Homo sapiens: one gene and its partners. The protein of the gene in region 2 interacts with the protein of the main gene of each other region in a pairwise test. Each region holds a gene or a part of one and is shown on either strand. Other genes may lie near its edges.

What was found.
Region 1: the proteins of TUBA3E (region 2) and FHL3 interact in binary tests that used the Homo sapiens proteins (3 or more experiments, as listed by UniProt).
Region 3: the proteins of TUBA3E (region 2) and NMI interact in binary tests that used the Homo sapiens proteins (3 or more experiments, as listed by UniProt).

What each region holds. Positions count from the first base shown.
Region 1 is NC_000001.11:38,002,483-38,010,233, reverse strand, and holds the start of FHL3 (four and a half LIM domains protein 3), read left to right. Parts: upstream 1-4,719; 5' UTR 4,720-4,877; intron 4,878-7,751. UniProt on the Homo sapiens protein: Recruited by SOX15 to FOXK1 promoters where it acts as a transcriptional coactivator of FOXK1.
Region 2 is NC_000002.12:130,195,407-130,203,227, reverse strand, and holds the start of TUBA3E (tubulin alpha-3E chain), read left to right. Parts: upstream 1-4,788; 5' UTR 4,789-4,867; coding exon 4,868-4,870; intron 4,871-6,856; coding exon 6,857-7,079; intron 7,080-7,821. UniProt on the Homo sapiens protein: Tubulin is the major constituent of microtubules, a cylinder consisting of laterally associated linear protofilaments composed of alpha- and beta-tubulin heterodimers.
Region 3 is NC_000002.12:151,286,597-151,293,837, reverse strand, and holds the start of NMI (N-myc-interactor), read left to right. Parts: upstream 1-4,169; 5' UTR 4,170-4,245; exon of another isoform or gene 4,246-4,947; intron 4,948-7,241. UniProt on the Homo sapiens protein: Acts as a signaling pathway regulator involved in innate immune system response.

The DNA of each region.
Region 1 (7,751 bases), on a different chromosome or scaffold from region 2:
TCTGAGCTTGTCTTACTCTGTCAAATGGTGATGATGATAATAATAACTGCCTCTTCTGGTTTTTGTGAGGACAGAAAGAGGTAATGACTACCACGTGGCATGGTGCCCTTCACACAGTCAACATTTAACTACATTAGTTCTTGCTCTGCCCTCCCCACCTCCCATGCTCTGTGAAAGTCACTTACTTATTTCACCCTCTCCACCCACAAATTCAGTGTCCAGCTTGGGGTCACAAGGAAAGTTTCTGGACGGCCAGGCGCAGTGGCTCATGGTTGTAATCATAGCATATTGGGAGGCCAAGGCGGGCAGATCACTTGAGGTCAGGAGTTCAAGACCAGCCTGGCCAACATGATGAAACCCCATCGCCACTAAAAATACAAAAATTAATCGGGTATAGTGGCGTGTGCCTGTAGTCCCAACTACTCAGGAGGCTGAGGCAGGAGAATAGCTTGAACCTGGGAGGCGGAGGTTGCAGTGAGCCGAGATTGCTCCACTGCACTCCAGCCTGGGTGACAAAGCGAGGCTCCATCTTAAAAAAAAGAAAAAGAAAAAAATAGAAGAAAGCATCTGGGCAATTTGGAAGAGGTTATCTACCAAGCCTTGAGGCCTGCAAGAGCTCTAGGCAGCCAGTAGGTAAGAGTGAGCAATATACCCAGAGGAAAAAGGCTGTGTTCTCACTAGGGGGAAGGAGGGCCTATGGTTACAGGCATCAGAGAGTGATTCAGCACTCACAGGAAACCATGAGAGGCCTGTCAGTAGCCACCCAGGGCCTCCTTTTGAAAACCCTTGCAGAGTGAAAAAACAGCAGGGGTGCCCTAAGCATGAGATAAAGAAGAGTGTGTGGGGACCTCTAGGGTGAGTGAGGGACAACAGGATCCTACTCACCCAAGGCCAGTCATCCAGCTCTCAGGCTCTGCTTCCAGCCCCAGTTCAGACACACCTGTTTCCCAGGGAGGGAGGAGGACAGATAGGGAACAGGAACAGGGAGTCCTTGTGGCTGATCCCTGGACTTCCCTGGGGCACGTCCTCCTGGGCCAACGAAAATAGAGTGAGCAGAGAAATGTGAGCCTCCTGGGGAATGGAAATTGAGACAGGGAGACACAGCTTCACTGTGGGCGGCTTGCCCCTAGGCCGCTCTCCCTAGCCCAGGTGGCCCAAGCCAGAGAGCTAACTTTCTCTGGCCCCCAGACTCCAAGTCCAAGTAGCTGAACCTTAACATTTGATCATGAAAGTGGGGACTGTCCCCACATATTGACAATCTATTGTGTGCTCTCATCCAATCCTTACAACAATGCTGTGAGGCAGACTCATTCACTTTTCACAGTGAGAAGACTGAGGTTCACAGAGATTAAATGACTACAGATACTAGAGCCTAATGGTGAAGCTCATTTTTGGCATAGGGTGCTATGACTTCTGACTGTCCAGATTTGATTTTTTATTTTTATTTTTTTCCCCAAGACAGAATCTTGCTGTGTCGCCCAGGCTGGAGTGCAGTGGTGCAATCTTGGCTCACTGTAACCTCCTCCTCCTGGGTTCAAGCGATTCTCCTGCCTCAGCCTCCCAAGTAGCTGGGATTACAGGCATGCACCACTACAACCAGCTAATTTTTGTATTCTTAGTAGAGGCAGAGTTTCACCATGTTGGCCAGGCTGGTCTCAAACTCTTGACTTCGTGATCCGCCTGCCTCAGCCTCCCAAAGTGCTGAGATTACAGGCGTGAGCCACCGCCCCCAGTCGGTTTGATTTTTTTTTTTAATAGAGATCGGGGTCTCATTATGTTGCCAGATCTGGTCTTTTTTTTTTGAGACGGAGTCTCGCTCTGTCACCTAGGCTGGAGTGCAGTGGTACAATCTCGGCTCACTGCAAACTCCACCTTCCGGGTTCACGCCATTCTCCTGCCTCAGCCTCCAGAGTAGCTGGGACTACAGGCACCTGCTACCACGCCTGGCTAATTTTTTTGTATTTTTAGTAGAGACGGGGTTTCACTGCGTTAGCCAGGATGGTCTTGATCTCCTGACCTCGTGATCCGCCCGCCTTGGCCTCCCAAAGTCCTGGGATTATAGGCGTGAGCCATCGCGCCTGGCCCAGATCTGGTCTTAAACTGTTGGGCTCAAGCAATCCTCCTGCCTCAGCCTCCCAAAGTGCTGGGATTACAGGCAAGAGCCACCAAGCCCGGCCAACCATTGGGATTTGTATCCTAGCTTTGCCATTATTACCTGTGTCGCCCTTGCCAGGTTACTTAATCTCTCTGTGCCTCCATTTTCTCATCTTTAAAATGAGGATGAAAATATATATTTAGGCCAGGAATAGTGGCTCATGCCTGTAATCCCAGCACTTTGTGGGGCTGAGGCAAGAGGATTGCTTGAGCCCAGAAGTTCAAGACCAGCCTGGGCAACTTAATAAGACCCCTGCCTTTACAAAAAATTAAAATTAAAATAAATTAGCTCAGTGTGGTGGCCCACACCTGTAGTCCCAGTTACTTGGGAGACTGAGGTAAGAGGATCGCTTGAGCCCAGGAGGTTAAGGTTACAGTGAGCCGTGATTACACCACTGCACTCCAGCCTGGGTGACAGAGCAACACACTGTCTCAAAAACAAACAAATATAGATGCACATATATTTAATAAAGTTATTGAATAATCAGGTATGTCAATATATGTAAAGTGTTCAGGACTGGTGCAAAGAAAGAACTCAGGAAGTACTGGCTCTCATTAAGGCTATTTAGGAGAGATTAGAGCCATGCATCAAGAACAGAGATTCCAATACTCTGCCTTTTATCAGGCCCCTTCTGTACTCACTCATAACCCCTTGCTTTCTGAAGGCTCCCCACCTTTGCCCTCCCGTCCCCCAGAGCTGACCTCCTCTTGGTACCCACTCCACCAAGGCTGAGTAGTCTTCACTGCACTCCCCTGGGCTGGGAGTCTCTTACACCTGCAAGATACATCCCAGAGAGGCTGGGCATGGTCACTCATGCCTGTGGTCCCAGCACTTTGGGAGGCTGGGGCAGGCAGATCAGATCTTGAGGTCAGGAGTTTGAGACCAGCCTGGCCAAGATGGTGAAACCCCGTCTCTACTAAAAATACAAAAAAAAAATTTAGCCGGGCGTGGTGGTGCACACCTGCAGTCCCAGCTACTTGGGAGGCTGAGGCAGAAGAATCGCTTGAACCTGGGAGGTGGAGGTTGTAGTGAGCGGAGAGTGCGCCACTGCACTCCGGCCTGGGCAACAGAGCAAGCCTCCATCTCAAAAAAAAAAAAAAAAAAAAAAAAAAAAAAAATCCCAGAAAAAGGCCCCATCCATGGGCTGGATGCTCACTGCCTGGACTCCAGATAGCAGGTGCCTGTGATCCAAACCGAGGATGTTAGAGGGGCATACATACTGAAGCAGTGTCTGGTATCCATTCATTCATCAGATGTTTATTATGTGCCGGATATTGGAGTAAGTACTGAGAAGGCAGTGGGGAACAAAACGGAGCCCTGCCTTCATGGCTCTTACCATTTAGGCAACAACAGCAATAATAAGCAAGCAATGATTTAATTTTGAAAGGAAACCAGACCTGGTGGGTGACTTGGGACCCAGGAACCCAGGCATGATGCAGAGATGGGACGGAAAGGTTCTCAGGAGCCCCAGCCTGGGAGGGTGTTAGTTCCTCCGTGAGAGCTCTGCTACACCCAGCCTGGGGTGTGGGGAGGCCTCTGTGGGCACCTGAATCTTCACTCTAGATGCTAAGGTTATTCCGGGGTTGATTTGTTGTCTCTTGTTTCCACAAACAGCACAGTAGAGCCTCCTGCCTCCCTCCCTCCCCCACCTCTTCCAGACTGAGGCTATTTATTCCTAGTGACAAGCCTGAGGATCCCAGGGGGGGTGGCCTTAAGGACCTGGAGGGGCCTCGTGTCCCTAGCAGGCGCCAGTCCTCCCTCACGGACACAGGGAGGAAGCCAGAGGCTCAGACACCGCAGAGGTCCCCTCCCCTCTCCTCCACCACCCCTGAGGTGCCCCATCCTCTCACACTCCTCACACCCCACCCTAGAAGCCCAAAGATCATGGGGCCGAGGATTAGGGTCTCCCCCGGGCCTCAAAGGTCAAAACTATTCCTGGGCACTGCGGAAACCCAGGCAAGGCAGGACTTCTCAGTGTCAGGAGGCTGCTGGAAGTGGGGAGGTGGTTACCCCTGTTTTTGCTACTCAAAGTTGTGGAATAAAACCCTTTGGAGGTCAAGGCCCTATGGTGGGGAGGGGTCCTCTCTTCGTCCCATGTTTTCAGAGAACACCTTGGTGCCCGCTGACAGGCTCATGACAGCAGAGTCAAAACGTCCTCCTCCAGGCTGGATTAAGGCCGGGCTGAGTGTCACCCCTGGGGTAAGGTGAAGGGGTGGGGGGATCCGAGGAGGCCAGAGGACTCCCCCAGTGGACCATGGTCTGCGGGGTCTCGTGTCGCCGGCCTGAGATGGAATACAGCAGTCTCCCTCTGGCAGCTGGGGATGGGGGGTGGGAGGGGAGGAGAACAGAGGCTGCGGGGAGGGGACAGGGGCGGGGTCCCGGCCGCTTGAAGGTTGGGAGAGCCAGGTTAGGCCGGGCGGGAGGAGGGGGCCGGGCCGACTGGCGGCCGAAAGGGAGGTGGGGGCGGGGTCTGGCCCCCGCGGCGGGCTGGGGGGCCGGGGGCGGGGTCCGGGCGGGGCGGGCCCGCGCTCACTTCCTCGGGGAGGGGTTGGGGCCGCGCTCCCACTCGCCCACACGGTCCGTCTGCAGTCGGCAGCCTCGCCGGCAGCTCGCTCGGCCCCCGCTTGGCCCGGCCCGCAGGTAGGAGCCGCCGAGGGACGCGGCGCCCGGTTCCCGGCCCCGCCTGCGCCGCGCGCTCCCCGCTCCCGCCGCCCGCTTCGAGGTGAGCGCCCCGCCGACCCCGGCTCCCAGCCCTGGCGGTCCGCCCCCGCGCCCAGGCCGGGGAGCGAAGGGACCCGCGGAGGGCTGAGGCCAGCCGCGGCCCCGGTCCCCTGTACCCGCCGGGCTCTGGCCACGGGTGCCCGGGGCACGCCGAGCCCGGGACAGCGCCCGCCGGGACTGGACCCCTCCGGGCTATCGGGCGGGGCGGGGGCGGGGGCGGCAGCGAGAGTTGGGCGGGGGAGGGGGCTAAGTTTGAAATAGAAAAGCCGGAGAGAGACAGACAGACCGACCGACCAGAAGCGCTGGAGAAACTGAGGTTCTCGGAAAGCCCGGTGGAGCGAGAGACCGAGACAGGCAGGGACTCGAGGCACAGGAGGCTACCGAGACCACTGAAACAAGGACACACCGGGCGTACAGAGTTACTGGTGGACAGACCCGAGGCATGGGGGCCGTCCTAGGCTTTGTGGAGCATTTTCAGAAAAAGCATACGTGGGACCCCAGCGAACACATTCCCTAGGGCCCTTCCCCGGGCCTTGGAGGTGCCCTGAGGCTTGGGCGTCATTGGCCTCATGCTGAATCTGCTCTCTGAGGCCTGCAGAGACGCTCAGAGACTAGAGACAGAGACATTCAGGCGTGCAGAGGTGGCGAAAGAGACTTGGATGCAGAGACAGAGAAAGGGAGGTGGTGGGGATTGAGACATTCAGCCATGTAGACAAGAAGAGACCAAGACTTGAGATCCACAGAGGCATGGGCCCCCTGGGGGACAGCCAGTCAAGATACAGAGCCGTCCAAAACCTAAAGACAGAGACTGAAGTGTGCCCAGACACAGAGATGCTGAGTGAAGCAGAGACAGACACCAGAAACTGAGACTAAGTGGGGGCAGAGAGACCTAGGTGGTCTGACAGCTTCCAGGACAGCCCCTGACTTACCCGGGCCTGAACCATTGGGAGGTGAGGCTGTGGGGAAACAGAAACTCTGAGCCTACCGATCCCCCATGAGGCAGAGGCCCTGAGACAGTAAGTTCGAGATCAAGAAGAGCCCCACGCACACACACAGCCACCAAGACAGCCCCAACTTATTTTTGAACTCAAATCTTGGATGGGCTGCCTCAGCCCTGGGGGACCCAGGGTGAATGAACTGTTCCTCTCATGTCCCCAGAGCAGCTGCGGGATCTTGCTCCCCAACCCCCTTCCCTAAACTTCTCTGACTTCCAGGCCACATGGGGGAGAGCAGAGCTTGGGGTTGGTGCCCGGTAGCAGAGGGTGAGGGTTGAGGGAGTTGGATTTCTCCCCTTAAGTCTCCTGTCAGCTTCTAGAAGGTGGGGGAGGGGTCTGTTCTGATCCTGACTCACAGCTGTGGGACCTGGCCAGGGTCCTCCTGGACAGTGGGCATGTTGGGGGTGGGGGCAGAAGGATTGAATGGTTGGCATGGGGCATTGGAAAGGCTTCTGGGTGTCTTCCAATCACAGGGCTAGCAGCTGAGGAGAAGAGCCAGGCTCTGGTGCATCTCCTGTTCCCCTGCCCTTAAAAACTGACCACCCCCATGTCACCATCCGCTTCATCACCAGGGCAGCATTTTTAGGGAGAGGGAAGAGCTCTGGGCTGGGAGGCAGGGGACCTGGGTCCTGATCGGGACCTTGGGCATGAACCTGCTCTATTCCTGGCCTCCTTGTGCTCAGCTGTAAAATGGGGATGATACTCTGTCCTGCCTGCCTTTTGTGAGATCTGATGAGATTGTGGTGGGCATGGACTTTGTGAGTGGCAAAGCAGCATGCAGGTGTCTACATCCGTGGACCTGCATGAGAGATCTCAAGAGTTAAGCTTACTAGAGTCAGGCTGACCGGACTGAAGCGACCACTTTCCCCACTGGTGTCCTCAGCAAGCCCCATGGGCCTGGGGCCCCCTATTCTCTCCCTGGGCCTATGCTGAGAATGTCCAGGTCAAATTTCAGACCAGGCTGGGCACAGTGGCTCACGCCTGTAACCCCAGCACTTTGGAAGGCTGAGGCCAGAGGATCACTTGAAGCCAGGAGTTCAAGACCACCCTGGGCAACATAGTGAGAACCCCATCTCTACAAAAAATAGAAAAACCTAGCTGGGCATGGTGGCACATGGCTGTAGTCCCATCTACTCAGGAGGCTGAGGCAGGTGGTTTGCTTGAGCCCAGAGTTGTTTTTTTTGTTGTTGTTTTGTTTTGTTTTGAGACAGAGTTTTGCTGTTGTAGCCCAGGCTGGAGTGTAATGACATGATCTTGGCTCACTGCAACCTTCACCTCCTCGGTTCAAGCAATTCTCCTGCCTCAGCCTCCTGAGTAGCTGGGCTTACAGGCGCCCGCCACCATGCCTAGTTAATTTTTGTATTTTTAGTGGAGATGGGTTTTCACCATGTTGGCCAGGCTGGTCTTGAACTCCTGACCTCAGGTGATCCACCGGCCTTAACCTCCCAAAGTGCTGGGATTACAGGTGTGAGCCACCTCACCTGGCTGAGCACAGAAGTTCGAGGCTGCCGTGAGCCATGATCGTGCCACTGCACTCCAGCCCTGGCAACAGAGTGAGACCCCAACTCAAAACAAAAAAAAAAAACAAAAAGGCTGAGCGGACACCAGCTTGGCCAACATGGCGAAACTCTCCATCTCTACTAAAAATACAAAAATTAGCTGGGCATGGTGGTGCCCTCCTGTAATCCCAGCTACTTGGGAGGCTGAGGCAGAAGAATCGCTTGAACCTGGGAGGTGGAGATTGCAGTGAGCCGAGATGGAGTTAACTGCGCTCCAGTCTGGGTGACAGAGTGAGACCCTGTCTCAAAAAAAAAAAAAAAAAAAAAATTGGGCTGGCACTGTGGCTCATGCCTGTAATCCCAGCACTTTGGGAACCCAAG
Region 2 (7,821 bases):
AGCAATTTGGTTTTAAAATCTGCCCCATTTTAGAGGACAGATCACAAACTACAGGTCCAAGGACTTCAGTGTATAAATGAATGTATTTTAGAAAACAGAGCCTATGCAGTGAGCTGAGATCGCATGACTGCAGCCTGGTGACAGAGAGAGACTCTGTCTCAAAAAAAAAAAAAAAAAAAGAAAAAAGAAAAGAAAAAAGAACCTAATTGTGTTATTACTATACTTAATGGCATTTGAATATAAAGTTCAGATATCTTACTAAAAACCAAATTTATAAAGGAGTTATGGGGGAATCAGCCACATTTTAACATATGTCCTCTTTTGCAGTTCCCTGTCCTTACTAAGATGCCCCTTCTAAGAGCAGGGGGCATGGTGTAGAGAGAAGGACGAGGTCACTGGTGTCAGGCGCAGCGTGTCACTGCAGATAACACAGTGCCCTCTGGACATCGTTCCTCATTCAGAATGGGCGGGGCTGGGGGAGTTGCTGCTTACTCTGCGGGGTTGAACTGGAGATGGCAGATGATGACTGTGAAGTGGGTGCCTGCTGCAGGCAGCACGCTGAAAGGCACCCATGGCAAGGAGCCAAGCCCAGCTAGCTGACATGGGCTGTGTAGCAACTGGGCACAGCAGGGGCCCTGGAACCAGGCTTGGCCCTGTTGTCCTGCTTGCAGCAGGGACAGTCCATGAGTGGGAGTCCCAAGGAGGTCTGTAAACATCTGTATGAAATGAACCTTACAAAACTCTGCAAAGCCTCTTAAGCCTTTCTCACCCAGAACCAAACTGCCTACCTTGTGCATGTCCTCCTTCTCCTGCCACACCATGCGGTGCTGCTTCTCTGGCCCCCGTAGCTGCTGTGTGAAATCTTGTCGAGGCGCCGCCTTGTCCTCAAGTTGTCACTCAAGCCTGTTTGAATATGAGCAAAAGAGGAAATAATTTGTGTTCCTTTCTGTGTAGCAACTATATGTAAACGTTGTTAGCTGACTTATTGAAATGATTTAATAATTCACAGGACTGTTTTTTTTAGTGCTGTATACTAAATAAAATACACAAGGCAGCAATACTTAGGGGCCAGAAACACTGTTTACTGCAAGTCAATTATGGAATCATAACTTACAGTAAAAATGGGCATGTCCAAGGCTCAATTTTTCTTTTGTCATTTACAGTAGAATAGTTTGTTGCTAATTTTCTACACTGTCTACTGGGAATATGTGTTACTTTTATAATCAGAAAAATAAATATTGCAGTCACGTAGCATATAATGATGTTTCGGTCAACAACAGACAGCATATATATAAGAGTGGTCCCATAAAGTTATAATACCATATTTTTCCCGTAGCTTTTCTGTGTTTAGATACATAAATCCTTGCTGTACAGGTCTGTAGCCAAGGGGCTATATGCTATACCATGTGGCCTAGGTGTGCAGTAGGCTGCACCACCTTGGTTGGTCTAAGAACACTCTGTGATGTTCTCACGTCAACGAAATTACCTGATGATGCATTGTCGAGAACGTATCCCAGCCGCTGAAGGATGCGTGGCTGGACTGAAGAGCACCGTGTGATGTGGGCTACAGCTGAGTTCTGTGCATGATGTGGTTGGAGCCCTGAGGAAGGGGGGCTATGGACTGAATGGTGTCCCCCCCCGCCAATATTAGACGCTGAAGCTCTAATCCCCAATGTGACTGTAGTTGGGGACAGGGCCTATAAGGAGATGATGAAGGTTAAGTGAGGTCATAAGGGTGGGCCCTGATCCAACAGGATTCATGTCCTTATAAGAGACCAGAGCGCTTGGATGCTACCTCCCCGTGGGAGGACATGGTGAGAAGGTGGCTGTGTGCAAACCAGGAAGAGAGGCCTCTGGGGCTTTTAGCCTCCAGAACTGTGAGAAAATAAAACCCTGCTGTTTAAGCCACTCAGTCAGTGGTATTTTTTAGGGTGCCTGGGGCTAATACAGAAGGATTCACCCTCCTGGGGAGAAGGGGCCAGTGGCCTCCTCTGATTTTCCCAGCTGTCGGCAGAACTCCGTCCCTGCCCCTCCTCCTTTTGCCAAAGCATCTTTCTAAGGGAAGACCTGATTGCACTGTTCAGAGGTCCCCAAAGGCCACAGAAAAGTCTCAACTCCTGGACCTCGTGAGTCCCATCCCACTGGGGGAGCTCCCTCTCTCTTCTCTGCTCTCCTCTCAGGAGGGAAAGTTAAGGGCCTGCTTGGCCACCCTCCAGGGAGATGACATGGTGGGATGCTGCATCCTGGTGATGAGCTGGGGGTAAGCCAGCACGTCTCCTCCAGGGCTTTCCCCAGAACTGAATACACACTAAGATGATCTTTAGGGATGGAAGACTCAAACTGGGAAGAATCACACACCTGTAGTCCCAGCCTACAAGGAAGGCTGAGGCTTGGGGATCACTTGAGGCCAGGAATTTGAGTCCAGCCTGGTCAACATAGTGAGAACCAGTGTCAAAAAATAAATAAATAAAAAGGAAGAATCAGGTGACTGTTCCAAAGTCCTCCAAAATGGGTATTGGGTCCTGACTCTGCTCTTCCCGGGACAGGGGTGTGCCTTCCCCTTTCCTGTTGGCCATAAACCCACTCCCTCTCACCAAAGAAATAAGAAAAAGTGTTCACAGCACTTTGAGTTATGTGAGGTGTGCAGAATTTATCAGGCCCAGAGAGACAGGAATATGGACTTCAGTCACACGCCTTGTACTCATGCCCTGGGGTGACTGTTTAAAGGCATTTTGTTCCTGACTAGCTCAACCCATTATCTTCCTGTTCCTGGAATTTGTGATACCAAAGACAATGTAGACAATGTAGAGACAATAAATAGCTTTTTTTTTTTTTTTGAGACAGAGTCTCGCTGTGTTGCCCAGGCTGGAGTGCAGTGGTGTTATCTCGGCTCACTGCAAGCTCCACCTCCCGGGTTCATGCCATCCTCCTGCCTCAGCATCCAGAGTAGCTGGGACTACAGGCACCTGCAGCCATGCCCGGCTAATTTTTTGTATTTTTAGTAGAGACGGGGTTTCACCGTGTTAGCCAGGATGGTCTCGATCTCCTGACCTCGCGATCCGCCTGACTTGGCCTCCCAAAGTGCTGCGATTACAGGCGTGAGCCACCACGCCCTGCCTTCTTTTTTTTTTTGAGATGGAGTTTTACTCTGTTGCCCAGGCTGGAGTGCAATGGCATGATCTTGGCTCACTGCAAACTCTGCCTCCTGGGTTCAAGTGATTATCCTACCTCAGCCTCCCAAGTAGCTGGGACTATAGGTGCTCACCACCATACCTGGCTAATTTTTGTATTTTTAGTAGAAACAGGGTTTCATCATGTTGGCCAGGCTGGTCTCGAACTCCTGACCTCAAGTGATCCTCCTACCTTGGCCTCCCAAAGTGTTGGGATTACAGGTGTGAGCCACCACGCCTGGCCCAATAAATAGCTTACGTTATTTTAATATAAATTCCTCAGGCTAGGCCAGCCGAGGTAGGAGGATCCCTTCAGGTCAGGAGTTCAAGACTAGCCTGGACAACACAGCAAGACTTCTCTAATTTCAAATTCTTGGTAAACAACTTAGGAACTGCCTCTTCTTTTCCTTTAAAAACCCACTTATAACTGCTGCTAATATTTTAAGACAACTTGCATCTCCAGGGTTGCACTTCTCAAACTTGGCCCAAATAAACTATTTTTTTTTTCAAGATGGAGTTTTGCTCTGTCACCCAGGCTTGAGTGCAGTGGCGTGATCTCAGCTCACTGTAACCTCTGCCTCCCGGGTTCAAGGGATTCTCCTGCCTCAGCCTCCTGAGTAGCTGGGATTACAGGCGCATGCCACCATGCCTTGCTAATTTTATTTTTTGTAGAAACGGGCAAGGTGGGACTCACCACGTTGCCCAGGCTGGTCTCGAACTCCTGACCTGAAGCAATCCTCCTGCCGTGGCCTCCCAAAGCACTGGAATTACAGGCATGAGCTGGTGTGCCTGGCCCAACCTCTCCACTTACGTTAATTTTGCCTCCTTTCTTCCTTTTTTTTTTGAGACAGAGTCTGGCTCTGTTGCCCAGGCTGGAGTGTGCTGTGGCCCAATCTCGGCTCACTGCAACAACTGCCTCCCAGTTTCAAGCGATTCTCCTACCTCAGCCTCCCGTGTAGCTGGGATTACAGGTGCCTACCACCAGCCAGGGTAATTTTTGTGTTTTTAGTAGAGATGGGTTTTCACCATATTGGCCAGGCTGGTCTCGGGAACTCTTGACCTCAAGTGATCCACCCGCCTCGGCCTCCCGAAGTGCTGGGATTGCAGGCGTTAGCCATCGCGCCCGGCCCGTTTTCTCCCTTTGGGTCAGAAAAGTGATTGAATCCTGCCACTTCCCGGGTGCTGGGTGGGAACAGGGAAGAGGGGGATAATTGCGGTGCTGCTGTGACTTGGGTAGATGGCGGCAAGGCCTCTCAGAGGTGGCCTTGTTTGCAAAGATCTGAATTAGGCAGGGAGAGGAGCAGGCCTGGGGCAATCAGGGAGGGGCAGTGGCACACTGGGAGCAAGGCAATGTTCCGCGACCCACAGAGGCAGCGCAGTAGCTGTTCCAATCCTGGTCGGAAGACACCCCGGAAATGCCTCAGCAACCGCGCAGCCTTTGATGACCCCGCTGCCTTCCCGCCAATCCTGCATCCAATCAGAGAGCATCCCCACTACACGTGTTGAGCAACGGCCAATCAGAACTGGGATCCGGCCCTCGGCCTGCCTCCCAGGAACTCCGAGCCAATGGCGGCCTGGCACCGGCAGGCCAATCCTGTGCGGCGCGCGTGGGCAGGTCATTGCAGTTGGGCGCTCAGCAGCTGTGGCAGCCGGTTGAGGTCTGGAAGTAGCGTTGGGCTGAAGCAGCGGAGTTCGCCATGGTAAGACCCGGGTCACTCCCGCCCCGCAGATGCCCAGGCAGACGAAGTTGGCCTCGGGTGGACAGAGGGACGTTGTTGCGGGCCTGGGCGCTGAGAGGAGGCCAGAGAAGGACGCAGGGTCTAGTGCGGGACAGGAGGACACGGGATCGTTTCCTGGATCTGCAGGTCCCAGGGCAGGGACGGCGGCTTTTGTTTTAGATGAAGCTGCCGGCCTTTAGTGGACGGGGACCATTGACGGTATCCCGTCCCCCAGAGAGCAAATAGTGGCGTCGCCTCCTGAAGACAGGAGGGCGCTGCTCCCGCTTCACACGTCTTTGTGCTACTGGAAACAGCTGAGGAGCTGCAGGAGCCTTCGGTGACGGGGGTTGGGGCTGTGGACATTGGTCAGATGAGGAATTAAGGCTCAGACGCTGCTGCAACATTGCCTTGTTCACCTAAAGGCAACCGTTAGGCCAGGCGCGGCGGCTCACGCCTGGAATCCCAGCCCTTGGGGAGGTGGAGGCGGGCGGATCCCCTGATGTCTGGAGTTCAAGATCAGCCCGACCAACATGGCGAAACCCAGTCTCTACAAAAAAATACTAAAATTACCCGGGCATGGTGATGCGAGTCTGTGGTTCCAGCTACTCGGGAGGCTGAGGTGGGAGGATCAGCCGAGCCTGGAACTTTGAGGCTGCAGTGAGTCGTGATGGCGCCAGTGCACTCCAGCCTGGGCCACAGAGACCCTGCCTCAAAAAACCAAACAAAAAAAGCAGCCCATTAACATAACAGATTCCCAAGTCCCAAGTCTGAATAGCTGTGATTTGTCAGTTATCCTTTTTTTCCTTTCTTTTTCTTTTTTCTTTTCTTTTCTTTTTTTTTTTTTTTTGAGACAGCACTCAATAAATGCTCTGTTGCCCAGGCTGGAACACAGTTGCAAGATCACGGCTCCCTGCAGCCTTGAACCCCTGGCTTCCAGCAGTCCTCCCGCCTCAGCCTTCCGAGTAGCTGGTACTACAGGTGTGTGCCACCACACCTGGCTAATTTGTAAATTTTTCATAGGGACAGGGACTCACTATGTTACCCAGGCTGGTCTCAAACTGGTCCCAAGTGATCCTCTCACCTCAGCCTTCCAAAGTGCTGGGATTACAGGAATGAGCCACCACACCCAGCTTGGCAGAGTTTAAAGAAACCACCAAAGGACAGTGCAGTGTCCCAGCACTGATGATGTCTGGGAGCCATTACACCCGTAGGCTTCAAGGGGTAGAGAGAGGGCGTGGTTACAAGAAATTAGGAGGGTAGTTTTATGAAGAGGGCAGCCTGCCAAAAGTGTAGCCTTGAGAGGGATTCAGGTCACCCACAGCAGTTGAGCAGGAAGGGGCCAAGGAGGGAGTACCCTGGCACTGCTTTCCTCCAGCCCCCCAGTATCCCACTGCTGCCTGCCATTGACCAAACCAGCAAGAAGCCAGAGGGCGAGGAAGGCCTCTGATGCTGTTCTCAAGGGTCAGCCTTCGAGAGCACAGAGCAGGTGGTGAATGATGGACGGGGTAGAACTGGGGGGCAGAGAGAGGACACACACTGAGCACCTGGGCTTGGACCATGGTGACCTGGGACCTACTCTGTATTTCCTTACCCAACCCGACTACCTTATCCTTTGATCAGGACATAATCAAAAACTGCTACTTATTCTTCAGAGAATTACTGTGACGGGCTATAATGTGGGGTTGATTATTGACATTAAATGGCTTCCAAGTTTTAAAATAACCTAAGTTTTGTGTAGTGGCAAACAGGTTCTAGGGCTACTTCTAGAACTTACTAGCTAGTATGGTTTACAGCAATTAGTTTTCACAGCGATAAAGGGATCAGTCACTAACCCTCCTAGGAAATATCGATTGTGAAAGCGCCAGATACTGAAGCACTATATAAATATTAAATTAGAATATTTTGCATGCCATATAGTTTCAAGTTGCCTTGAAATGAATGGGTTCACATTTATGTTCCGGTTCACAGCGCGAGTGTATCTCTATCCACGTGGGGCAGGCGGGTGTCCAGATCGGCAATGCCTGCTGGGAACTGTACTGCCTTGAACATGGAATTCAGCCCGATGGTCAAATGCCAAGTGATAAAACCATTGGTGGCGGGGACGACTCCTTCAACACGTTCTTCAGTGAGACTGGAGCTGGCAAGCACGTGCCCAGAGCAGTGTTTGTGGACCTGGAGCCCACTGTGGTCGGTAGGTGCCTGGGCACTGGATGGCAGCTTTCCTGAGAGGGTGGGAGAGCATTGGTAAAGCCCCGTGTGGGCTCCTTTGAATCCTCCTGCTGAAAGGATGGGATAGACAGGCATATGCCCATGGCATTGTTAGGAGAGAAACTGAAAGGTTTGTGATGAAAGTGTCTGTGAGACTCGGCTCCTAATTTAGGAAAACCTGACCTACAGGGAAAAGCTGCTTTGCCAGCAGTAAGATGGGCTGTGAAGAGATTCCCTCATGGCTGCCTCAGCCCTGCTCAGGTGGCCCTGCCTGCAGGGTGCAGTGGCATTGGTTCCCTCCCGAATGCTGTGCATTCTCTTATGCTGGTGCACGAGAGTCTTGACCTGCATCTTAGGCATAGAAGGTAAGTACAGAACAGTCATTTGCTTCCTTCAGATTCGCAGCCTGAGGTAGTTTCCAAGGAGAGCTACAAAGAGGCAGCACCTTTCAGTGGCCCCCCAGGAGATGACAGCATCACCTGAAAGCCTGTGGGACCCAGGTCATCCAGGGTGCCCTGATGGGACTGCCCTGCAGAAGTCACACTGACCTGGTGACTGCCCAGGTTGTAAGAGTTTTTAACTTACAGCCTTTGATGTAGCTACACGTAGGAAAGAATTATGTACCTGAGTAGGAGTGCAAGAGCTTATTTCCTTTCACTGGGAACTGGTCGTGCTGACATTTATACCACAAGCTGAGTTTAACGTCGTAGAGTCATAAATTGCAT
Region 3 (7,241 bases), about 21 Mb from region 2:
ATTTCCTTAATATAATATTGAGATTTACTGCTATCTTACAGCCTTGAATACTACAGATAAATGTTTATTTTTGAGCCTTTAGTTTATAAGCAAAACACTAATTGTTCTTCTTTATAGCATTGTCAAGGATACCAACTTTATTCTCTATGTACTTTATTTAACACAACAAAATTTTCTAAGTGATTGTTTATGTTTATATGATAAATCAGTGGTCCAGGCAGATTTGACAAGATAAAGTCCTTTATTCTTTAATTTTATTATTATTATTTTGCTTGAATTTATTTCTATTTCTAAGTATTTGATCTACCTCATAATATTTTATTCACTTATAAAAACTTATTCACACACATGAGTATGAAAAGCTATACAAAGGGGTTGTTATAACATTGGGTCCAGAGTATTTTACTCCTACTCTAGTATTTAATGACTAGTTAGAAATAACTATTTATACAGTGTGCACTAGGTACAGTTACTGCAGGTAACATAAAATAAATTTTTAAATGACCTTATTTCTTAAAAGTACTTTTCTAGGGAGGAAGAACAAAGATAAAGAAAATGTAAGAGAAAAATTGAAAAAAAATCTCACCGTAGTATAAGATGAAACAAGTACAATTTAGTGAGTGCTTTCCATGGGCAGAGCACTGTGTTTAGTCCTTGAAATGCATCTCTATCTCATGCACCACACCTTTATTTTATAGATGAGAAAATTGAAGCTGAGAAACTTCAGTAACTAAAAATTGAAATTCAAACCCATTTCTGACACCAAAACCATGCTTTATTTATTTATTTACTTTTTGACAGGGTCTCGTGCTATTGCCCAGGTTGAAGTACAGTGGTGCAGTCACAGCTCACTGCAGCCTTGAACTCCTGGACTCAAGTGATTCTTCTGCCTCAGTTTCCACAAATGCTGGGTTTATAGTCATGAGCCACCATGTCTGGCCAAAATCATGCTTTTAACTATACAGTACTGCTTGCCTGATAAAAGAGTAAGTATTTTCCTTTACCACTTATGTAGTCCAATGGGAACACTCTTGAAAACTAGAAGGAAGTTACAGAATTCATTTGTATCCCCCCAGGATCTTGCACAATACTGGGCATAAGTGTTCCAGTTTCCCCAAGGATGAACTGCAAACCAGATCAACACAATCTTAGCAACAGCAGCATAAGCTTGGTGTAGTAGCCTTTTCTTAAAAGAGAATCATCATGTAATAGATATCAGGTAGCTTTCTCATAGTTTGCATAATCACTAAACTCTTGGTGCCTCCCATTTGTTTTATGCTATATTAGTCCTTTTGGACTGTTATAATAAAACATCATAAACTGGTAGTTTATAAACAACAGAATTTATTTTTCACAGTTCTGGAAGCTGCAAGTCTAAGATCCAGGGTCCTGCAGATCTAGTGTCTGGTGAGAGCCAGCTTATTGATTCATAGATTACCTTCTGTCTGTGTCCTCACATGGCAGAAGAGGTCAACAAACTCCTTTGGACCTCTTTGATAAGGGCATTAATCTCATTCATTTAGGCTCCACCCTTTATGACCTAATCATCTCCCAAAGGCCCCAGCCCTAATACTGTCACCTTGGGGGTTAGGATTTCAACATACGAATTTTGGAGGAACACAAACATTTAGTCCATTGCACATCCCTCTGAGATTTTTCACCCGATCTTTCTTCTCAGTCTACTTTCTCTACCTTAATGAATCAACTCAATTTTCACCTCTTCTGTGAAGGAAACTTCCCTGACCTCCTCAGGTAGAGGGGACTACGCTCTCCTTTGTTTTTTACTACTTCTGGTATCCTACCCCTTCCAACACACATTAGACTGTATGTAATACTGGTGTGTGTGTGTGTGTGTGTCTTTATAGAAAGCCTGGGAGGAGTTCATTGCCATGTAGTCAGGGAGACAAATGTGTAACATAATATTCACCTCACATCTGTGTAGATTTACATGAGATATCCAAGGCACAGAGTGCTGCAGCTCATGTGCAACATATTTATTGAGTGCATGATAACATCAATAAATAACTTTTATATTAGGAGAGGGCGTAATTTACTAGAGCATTCCTCGAAAGGTCCCATCAGAAACTCCCCAAGATTTTAATAACTGTTCCTTGAAAAAAAGAATATATCGCTCAAATTGATTTGATAAGTTCAAGGTTGAATAAAGTTAAAATTTTTAATATGCACAAATTTTTAATTTTTCCCTGCAATACTTCTTGGAACTCTTAATGTGCCAATGTGCATTGTGAATTTCCAAAAGTGGATTCAGAATGCAGCATTTCCTAATTGTATTGGGCCATAAAATTCCATGTTCTCCATGTACCCTAGGACACAGTTTGGAGATATTGTTGAGAGTAGAGTATGATATCATTGTCACCATATATTAACTGCTTGATTTTGGGTCACCTCTTTATGCCTTAGTTTCCTCAACTGCAAAATGGGGATAATACCTTCCTGCCTGCTTCAGACAGGTGAAAAGAAATGGGAATAATACCTATATCTAATATTGTTGTTGGCAAAACAAAAAGGTTTATAAAATGTCCAGGAGTTCTTAGTAGATGTTAGCAATTACAATTATTAATAGTATGTCCAGGAGCCAACTCTTCATCTTCAGATCTCTAACACTTTGCAGAATACCAGATTTGAAGCTGAGTTAAATTCAGACTGTTAGTACATGTCTCAGCTTTAGAATGTAGGTGTCCAAAAAGACTTCCCCTCCACCTGTATCATTTGCCTTTTAAACAGAATCTGAGTCAATATATTAAGTTAGTCCTGTTCTGGCCATGGTCCTGTCCTTTAGTATCTTCTTGTAAAAAATAAAAATAAGAAGAAATGAGGTTCAACTAAATAACCTCGAGAGTTCATATTCCCTCTAAAATTTCAAGGTAAAACTAAAGTAATTCTTTCTCAAGTTGCAGCAGAAGGAGTTTTTGTATTTTCTAACTGGTCTGATAAGCACAAAGAAGTCGTTTTTTTTACTTAGAAATGCCATTTTACAGGAGGCTGAGGTGGTGGGATCACTTGGGCCAGAGCTCAAGATCAGCCTGGGAAACAGTTAGATACCTGCCCCCAGCACCCAAATTAAAAGTACAAAAAATCTGGGTGCGGTCGTGAATTCCTGTAATCCCAGCTACTTGGGAGTGGAGGTGGAAGGACTGCTTGAGCTCAGGAGTTGGAGACTGGGCAACAGAGCAAGACTCATCTCAAAAAAAAAAAAAAAAAAGAGAAATGTCACCACTTTAAACTGGTTCCCATCAACCTTTTTGATACAAAGAAATTTTACTTTTGTTAAACTATTTTAGACCACTGTATCAGTTATTATATGTGACTAGGTAGCATGATAACCTATAATTTATGCCTTGAAATAATTTTGACTCATTTTCTTCCCACATCTGTATTTATGAGCCGGGGCAGCTGTGGGGTGGTTCTTTGTGTGGGATTAAGAGACACTGCAGTTCTTGAAATAAACCAGATGTTTGAATTTTCAAAGGAAAAGTTCACACCTAGTGAAGTATTTATTTACAAGCTCCACAACAAAACAAGAGATTATAAGAAAACTTTCAAGGGACATGGGTCACAGAAACCAACAGGAACACCACAGCTTTCCCAACTTCATGGCCCCGGGGGATGTTACAAAAGACACAGAAACGCCGATCTTGTGCTGACTGTAAACATTTGTCAACTAGTGTTACAATGACTAAGAAATTACAAAAGAGTTACAATCTGATGAAGAGCGATTCCTGCTTTGACTTTATTTGGTTTCTATCCACTTTTCCAACATACCTTATAAAATACATGCAAAAAACTGGTTTTAGAAAGCGTTCCCTAAAATTAGTGTGTACGGAAACTTCAGGTATACTTCTGCTTTCCTCCGCAAAACCACCCCTTTTTAAAAATCGAAAGTGAAATTAGTTTTTTTTTCTGTTAGTGACTAATCATTGGAGACAACCATGTTTAGTATTTGAGCATTGGTTAAATGCTAAAGAAAAATCGCCGTTAAAGCAGTTTTCTTTTTCACTGTCTTTTTCTTTTCGCGGGGAACCCAGCTGTTCCTGCGAGGGCCACCTCCTCAGGAAGACCCCGCAGCTCTCCCGCGGCGCTTCTGCAGGAGGCAGCGACAGTTTCGAGAACCCGGGCCTTCCCCTCCCAGTGCCTCCCGGGGTTCCGGCGTTTCAGGCGCTGCTGTTTTCCGGGAAGGGCAGGCGCGCTGGGCCTTGGGGAGCTGCGCTCGGCGGGCGGACGCGGGTGAGTGGGGAGTCCCTTCCCCGGCTGCCACTCCCGCCGCTGGCAGTCCCGGGCTGGAGAGCCGGGGGTGGAAAGGGAGGTGGGAGCCCTCAGCGCCGACGGAAGTGGGACAGCGCCGGAGTTGAGACCCTGCTCCCCGGGAGCTGCCCGCAGCCGAGTCGCGGAGGCCACGCCGCCTTCGAGGGGGCGCACCTGCTCCTGGGCCCGCTGTGCAGTCTCTGGGCCGTCAGGGCTTCGAGCCTTGTCACTTGTTTGCTTTGCTTCATTGAGGAAATTGAAACATAAAGTTATTTGTGTTTCCTCGCTGTTTTCTCTCTTTTTTTTTTTTTTTTTTTTTTTTGAGACGGAGTCTCGCTCTGTCGCTCAGGCTGGAGTGCAGTGGCGCGATCTCGGCTCACTGCAAGCTCCGCCTCCCGGGTTCACGCCATTCTCCAGCCTCAGCCTCCCGAGTAGAGTAGCTGGGACTACAGGCGCCCGCCACCACGCCTGGCTAATTTTTTTTTTTGTATTTTTAGTAGAGACGGGGTTTCACCGTGTTAACCAGGATGGATACGATCTCCTGACCTCGTGATCCGCACGCCTCGGCCTCCCAAAGTGCTGGGATTACAGGCGTGAGCCACCGCGCCCGGCCCTCGCTGTTTTCTCCGAGTGTCTCTGGAGATAGTCCTTAGGAAAACGGATTTCTTAAGAAAACGATTCTTGGTAGGGGCAGTGTTGTGCAGTCATGGCTGGCGTGTCAGAATAGGCAAGGTTTTTCTTGAAGGAGACATCCGAAGGAGAATACTGTGTTTCCAGTCTGTACAACAGGCAGACGTTCTATTGCCTTTCTTTTTGCTGCCACGCATGCATATAGGAAGATTCGATTCTACACGGCCTGGCACCGCAGTTATATGATTGTATTACGGAAATACGGTGATGTTGATTTGTATCAGTTTTTTTAATTCGCTGCCATAACAAATTACATGGCTTTAGTGGCTTAAACACATAGGAACGCGCGCGCGCGCGCACACACACACACACACACACACTCACATACACAATTTACTATCTTAGGATTCTGTAGCAGTCCTACTGAGGTCTCACTGGGTTAAAATCAAAGTGTTGGCAGGGTTGCCTTCCTTTCTGGAAGCTCTTGGGGTGAATCCTCTTTCCATCTTCCGGAGGCCACCTACCTTATTTGGCTCAGCAGCCCTTCCTCCATCTTCAGGGCCAGCAACATTGCGCCTCTGAAAGTTCTTCCGGGGTCACATTTCACTCTTGACTCTTCTTCTGTCTTCCGCTTTCACTTTTAAGTAGCCTCATGATTACACTGGGCTCCCACAGATAATCCAGGATGCTCTCCATATTTAAAAGCAAGCTGATTAGCAACCTTAATTCAATCTGCAGCCTTAATTCTCCTTTGCAATATAAACTAACATAATCACAGATTCTTGGGATTAAGATGTGGACATCTTTGAGGGAGCCATTGTTTTGCCTACTACATGATTGCATAAAAGGAATGACCATACATCCCACTCATGCATAGAGCAAAAGTATCCAGATGCAAAAGATGCCAAAAGGGTTCTGGTGGTGTTAGATAGTAGACCATTTATGCTGAGAGCCTTTATTACAGGCTCTTGGAATATTGGCATTGTCACAATAATAAAAATAAAAAGCAATTAAATAACATTGCAGTTTCTGTCTTCTGAAATGTAATAAGAGGACTTCATATACATGTGATGTCCTGAGTACAACAAATACTTAAGTCAAGATACCACATAATTCTCTAAATGGAGTGTTTTCAGTGTGTAAGCTTATACTGAGAAAGTGCTCTGAATGTCTGCAGGGAGGAGTAGACATGGTCCCAGCCCTCAACATGTTTACTGATGTGTCACGGAAAATGACATAGGTACACACGTAATTAAAGCGCCGCAAAGGAGATAAAGGAGGGGGAGTAACATCCTTTGGGGGAATCAGAAAAGGCTTCGGGAGCTTGGGGAAAATTTGGAATGGACCTTGAAGAACAGTAAGATTTCATTAGATGGAGATTAAGTTTGGGAGAGGAGGAAGGATGTGACAGTTTGAGGGACAGAGGAAAGAAAAGGAACTATCCAAGTGTTCAGTGTGGTTAGGGAACTGGGTTGAGGAATTGACTAAATAGGACGGGAAAGTGAGTTGGAGTTAGAATGTATCAGACCATGGCTGACCATTAAGAAGATTTTGCAGTTGTTGATACAATAGCGATATATATGTATATATGTATGCGTGTGTGTGTGTGTGTGTGTATGTGTGTGAGAGAGAGAGAGAGAGATGTGGTTTAAATATATATATACTTATATATATATATCGTCTCAAGGCATCTCAAACTTACAGAAAAGTTGCAAGTACAGTAAAACAACTTTTCCTTTTCCTAAATTATTTAAGAATAAATTTCCAATCTGGTGACCTATCATCTTTCATTATATACTTGAGTATATATTTCCTACAAAAAAGATGTGCTCCGACATAACCACAATACAGTCATCAAAATCAGGAATGTGGAGTGCTACGTTACTACAATTTAATAATCAGATCCAATGTGAATTTCACCAGTTGTCCTGATAGTGTCTTGGATAGTGTAGGGGTCAAGGGAAAACTTCCTCTTTGCTCTCTGAAGGGCAAAGGCAGATTAAAAAGGAGAAATGGCATACAAATTTATTAATGTGCACAGGGGAAAAAAATCACATAGTGATGATACTGCACAATGGGGTACAGATGGTTATATTCCCTACTTTTTAGGGGAAAGGGAGATGTGGAAGTGTGGATGATTATAGGGGGTTAGTAAATGATTTTTAAAGGAATTCAAGGGACTCGAAGAACATACAATGGCCTTGGACAAAGCCTGTTGGGCTTGCAGAACAGACAGTGGTTGTAACCCAGGTTTGTTGACAGACTTCAGTCTTCTTTCTGTGATATGAATTCAGAATTAAAAACTCAGGGAAGGGACTAGAGGTAATTGTTCTGTTTTCTGGCAGGTC